Regions from separate parts of the Homo sapiens genome. Here region 1 is linked to region 2. The links come from fine-mapping of genetic effects on gene expression. A gene starts in region 2. The other region holds a variant in brackets. All regions are shown on one strand. Distances are from middle to middle. Region 1 overlaps LOC124903282 (a long non-coding RNA gene). Region 2 holds the start of ANG (angiogenin).

Evidence for each region. PIP is the estimated chance that this variant, and not a neighbour inherited with it, causes the effect.
Region 1: its variant is fine-mapped to the expression of ANG in whole blood (INTERVAL, PIP above 0.99).

The regions. Positions count from the first base shown.
Region 1 is chr14:20,708,825-20,711,626 of GRCh38, forward strand. It overlaps LOC124903282 (a long non-coding RNA gene), which reads right to left. Exons shown (of 2, transcript XR_007064061.1): 2 at 969-2,802. Among named protein-coding and RNA genes, the nearest start is that of EGILA, 3.3 kb to the left of the region's middle. The variant C/G (reference allele first, on the strand shown) is at 1,404.
Region 2 is chr14:20,686,972-20,689,773 of GRCh38, forward strand. It overlaps ANG (angiogenin), which reads left to right and starts at 1,793. Exons shown (of 2, transcript NM_001097577.3): 1 at 1,793-1,903. All of the region lies in intron 1 of RNASE4 (ribonuclease A family member 4), which reads left to right.

The DNA.
Region 1 (2,802 bases), 22 kb after region 2:
TCCCATCATAGTCATTTCAGAGGTTACTAATGAGATGCCCTTAAATGTGTCTTTCAGCACTTGCTATAATTTGTAAGTGCCTCAATATGCCAGATGATGCTTTCTAAGCCTGCTTGGGGGAAAACAAGGGACAGGAGATGGTCGTAGGAAGGGAAAACCGGCCTGGTCCATTGGTGTAACACATCTGGAAAGTGTGCAGGCTGCCTGGTGGTTTTTGTTAATCAGCCCCGGACCTATGGGGGTCCTAACGTGCACTGCCCTATCCATCCATCAGGTAGACATGGCCGAAGATTAGTTTCACATAACTATTGAGTTCCACTGGGGACCAGCCACCAAATTTTGGGTCTGTGTCCAATCAGTGGTAAACAGGTTTGTCTAATATAGCACTAAAGAATGTTCATATTGATGTAGAGGCATCCTATCCACATTTTTAGTAACATTCGGCCAATGATTCTAAGAGTGATTCCTTTGTTCCCAACATGAAGTGGCAATTTGGGTTAAGTGACTAATAGTGGAGATCATCCAGAGGTAATCGTCCCAAATTTGATAAAAACTCACCTACCGTGTAATGGTTATTAGTAGCCAAAATCTTGGGGGCCATCTAGGAAAACTCCTTTAAGAGAGGGATTGCATACTCAGAGGTCCTTTGGATAGTCCGGTTATAATGAAGAGTTTTCCAGGATCTGGATTCTGAAGCGTTATATTAATGCCAGGCCATTTTTAAAAAATATTACCTTAAGTTACCAAGGTCCTGATTTTCCCATGAACAGTTTTTCATATACGTTTGTAAATGTATCTAATCAGTCCCCTGCAGGGGTGATACTCACTAAAGTAGCCCAGAAGTGCTAGAGATGGGTAGCAATCCACATACCCAGCAAGCATCTTAGTGTAGACTATCTGCATAATGTTATGCCCACTGTAGAAATAGACTAGTTTTAGCAGATGTCAAAAAAGTTTACTCATTATGATAAAGAATAACAGAAATTTAATCCTATAGTACAAAAAGATTTTTCTTAAGCAGTAGCTTCAGTTCTCCAGTTGGCTCACAAGTCCAACCAGGTTGATTGTCTGCTGTGTCAGGTTGGGGAGGGGCGATTTTTACCGAAATGTGATGTATGCGTGGTTTGACTCCAGCCAGCTTAACAGATGAATGAGTAGTTAATAAAACATCATAATGACCTGTCCACTTTTTGGCTGGCTGTTGTTGGTCCAGTCCTTGTTTTTACCAAGATTTTAGCGGCACTTTATCCTTGGATGAAAAGGGTGAAGGGGCTTTTTTGTAAGACACATAAAACTGGAAAGAACAAAAAGAACAAACTTGTGCAGGGTTAGTGATTTATGTCTTAGTTGTTGTACATATTGTTTAATTCTTGATTAATTTATTAAGTCCAAGGGTGGGGTCC[C/G]TGGCCAAGAACTTCAGAAGGGTCTCCCACACACAATTTCAAAAAGGCTTAATTTAAGCCCACTTCAGGGTGCTACCCCAATCCATAGCAGGGCAATAGGTAAAACCCTTTACCATTTTAAATCTGTTTCCCGATAGAGTTTTGCCAGGGGTTTTTTTTGGTTTTTTTGTTTGTTTGTTTTGTTTTGTTTTTGTTTTTGTTTTTGTTTTTTAGCATGTGGATCATCTTTTCAGTCTTTCCAGTTGATTGTGGCCTCCAACAAGAGTGTCATTTCCATTTGATCTGTAATGCTTGGCTTATCCTTTGTGTGATCTCAGAAATTAAAGAAGGATTATTGTTGCTTGGTATGGAGTAAGGAAGTCCAAATCGAGGAATGATTTCTTTTAGCAGAGCCTTAGCTACTTCTGCAGCTTTCTCAGACTTGTTCGGATAGGCTTCAATCTCTTGCTCGGGTAAGCTTCAACCTTTCCAGAAAATGTGTCTACAAACACTAGTAGGTACTTATAAATCCCAGTGTTTTTGGCATCTGGGTGAAATCAACCTGCCAGTCCTCGAATGGTCATATTCCTTTGTATTGTATCCTCCTCTGGGAAGAGTTGCATGCAGTTCTTGAATCATTTGGGGTATATAGATAACATGCTTGTATAATCTTTTGAATGATCTTTTGAAGGTGTGGCCCTTTGAGATATGGCTACACCAGGTGAGCCAGTCCATCTCTGCCATAGTGTGTCCCCTCATGCAGGTCTTTCAGGACTGGGTATACCAGGGCCTCAGAGAGTAATATCCCATGAGTGTTAGCTTTCCATGAGGAACAAGGGTCTGTGTTGGTCAATGTCCACTCATGTGTGCATTCTTCATTTCATTCAGTGTAGTGGAGTTTAAATTCTGACAAGTTTAAATGGAGTATTAAGGTCCCAAGTAAATATGTTTCTTGAGTGGCCTGCTTTGCAGCTTTATCAGCCACTTGATTCCCTTTGGTTATTGGGGAGTCATCCTTTTGGTGGCCTTGGCAGTGCATAATAGCAACTTGAGTTGGCAGAACAACTGCCTCTGACAAAGCTAAAATTTCCAGCAGGTGTTTAATGTCTTTATTTCTTGAGGTTAAGAATCCCCTTTCTTTCTGAATGACCCCACGGGCATACACTACCAAGAAGGCATACTTGGAGTAGGTGTAAATGTTTACCCATTTCTCTTGAGACTGTTTTAAGGCCCTGATGAGAGCAATCCATTCAGCTTTTTGTGCTGAAGTACCAGCAGCGGGGACATAGGCTTCTACTACTTTGTCTAGGGTCACTGGAGCATACCTGGCCTGGCGTTGTCCTCCTTCTGTGAAACTGCTTCAGTCAGTGTATAGCTCCCAGTCCGGAGTGGCCATCAGATGATCTGACAGATCTGGTCT
Region 2 (2,802 bases):
GGACATTATTGGCTTGAGGGAGAGAGAGAAAAAAATCTCCAGGAAAGGGGAATGACTTTCAAGTTAAAGCTGTCTGAACATTTAAAAAATATATGAGGTTTTTTGCAATTGGCGATTCCTTCATTTGTATTAAAATTACTGACAAAGATGTGATGTTCCTTAATCATAGAATATAATTCCTTGTTGTATTTTAAACACAAATGACTAAGTGCTTAGATGCATTCTAATGAAATAGTAATTTTTCCCCCAAACCCTACTTTTCATTTCAACAAAACTTCCTTGTGCCAAGTTTAAAAGAAAAACATAAAACTGTCTTTTTGCATTGTGGGCAGATTGTGTATCCTCCAAAGGTTGTCCAGTGAAGGCCCAGAGGCAGAGAAGGGACCTAACTATATTCAGAGGCTGCTGGTTGCCCCACCTCAGCACTACTGCAGAACTCTAAAATCAGAGGCTGCTCTGTTTGTGTGAGTCGGTGCTTGAATTGGTGCTTCAGGCCATGGGGCTGTGTGTGTGCAGGCGCATATGGGTTGTATGCTGTGGCAGGGTACCGCTTTTCGGGACTCAGAGGTGGTGTTGCTTGAGCTAAGCCTGGAAAGACAGGTCAGTTTTCTCCTTGCTTATGAAGGGTTCAAAGTCTGACTCCACCATTCATCTGCTGTTTGTTCTTGGAGTTTCCTCATGAGCAGAGCATATTTACATAATGCCTACCTCACACAGTCCTGGTGTTGGTTGAATGTAGTCATGTATGTGAGAGCTTCACAAAATGAAAGATTGCACTGAATATTATAATTATTGTGATTTCAAGTGCATTTGTTTTACTAGCAGGCAGCCTGTCTTTTCTTGACACCTTCTCAAGTGCAGCCAGACTGAATACTTGGCAGCTAGGTGGGTGACAACAGAGGATTGAGGATTTTTAAAAAGATAACACTGTCCTAGATCCAACACCACTGTGGGCAAATGCTGGGGGTCTGTGAAACAGTTGGTACCCTGCTGCTGTCTGATATTGGAAACTATGAGATCTATAAGGTGATCCTGGTGACCTTTGGCCCACTGTTTTTACGCAAGCAATGGATCTACAGCCCTGCTTTGATGATGGAGATAAGCAATTTTGCAACTACATTACAAGGATCAGAAGATTGAATGTTCAGGGTTAGTCTCTTGTGGACAGGTAAAGATGGAAGAAGGAGAAACCCAGGAAACATGGCAAGCCTGCTTCTGGGGGTTAGAAGCTGAGAAGTTGAGTGTAGGGGGAGGGGCAGTGTACTAATAGCTGTCACACAACCTTCTCTGGAAGTGCTTTCCTGGCTGTATGAAATCGATGGAATAACGTGCTTAGCATCCGTTCATGAAACCAAATGATGTGATACGATAAATAGGATGTGATATGATAAATGATAAATAGTACAGTGGAAAAGCATCCTACTGGAAGACCATATCTTACTCTGTGACATCTTCCAAGGCAGTTCTTGGAGTTGGCCCAGGGAGATCAGAGATGCTATCTTATGGATCCAGACTATTATGTGTGAATAGGGAAACCTCAGTCCTGCCATGAACAAGAGTAAGCACCACAGACAGCAGAAAAGGGCAACTTTTGGACAGAAGGCCATGTTTCTCAAACTTTGTCTTCCAGAACAAATCTCTAATCCATTCAGGTGGGTTAATATCTAACCCAATCATGCCCAGCGAAAAGGTGAATGACCCTCCTCGTTTGTTCAAGAGCAGTGTCCTTGGTTTTCATGTCCCTGCCAGGACTGGGACACTATATATTAGGAACACTATATAATCAGAACCTGGAGAGGCCTCCAGGTTCACACAACTGGAACCCATCTCCAGGAACAAACAGCTGGAACCCATCTCCCGTTGAAGGGAAACTGCCAGATTTTTGTAAGATTCTTCCTCCTGGGTAAACTATTGTTCAATTTGTTTTATATATTATTTCTAGCCATCCATCCATTTTAATGAAACCATTTTCCTCCCTTTAAAGCCTCCAGGCTCAAGCTCATGAATTAAAAAGAAAATGGATCAGATTCTAAAGTTTAAAATGAAAACAGGTTTCTTTTGGGATGGCCTATGTGTGGATAAAGAGAAATTAGTGAGACTGGGAGGAAGTGGAAGTTTAGGAGGGATTTCTAAATTGTGATAAAATCCCCAAAGGCCTGGGGGAGCCATTTGCTGAAGGCCATCGGGAGTCCTCCCCCGTCGTCCACCCCTGTTACAGGCATTACACGTGGCTTAACAAGGAAAGAAACAGTATGTTTTTAGCATTGTTTCCTTCTAACCTTCCCTGCTAATTTCTCTTCTTAGAAAAGTTTTGGATGCTCTTTCAAACAAAGTGGAACACATCCCAAGATCAAAAGAAGGCTCACTGGCAGGTTGAAGGGAAGAAGGAAGGAAAAGCAATAAAGGGATGAATATGCCTTGGGTGTTAGGCTCTTACTTTGGGGGATTTTGCCCTAGGATGTATAAAAGTGTGAAGCCACATTGATGAAAATGATAACTATAGTTACTCATCATAAACTGTCAAGTTAACTCCCTGGTGTGTAAAATTTGATGAATCTTTTGAATACTGAACATTGCCTGTGGGGAGAGGGAGAGAATAATTCTTGTGAATACTAACAGATTCATTTGATACAGAAGATAAAGTTACTCTAAAGAACAGTTGGGGCCAGGTGTGGTGGCTCACACCTGTAATCCCCGCACTTTGGGAAGCCGAGGTAGCCGGATCAACTGAGGTCAGGAGTTCGAGACCAGCCTGGCCGACATGGCGAAACCCCGTCTCTACCAAATACACAAAATTAGCCA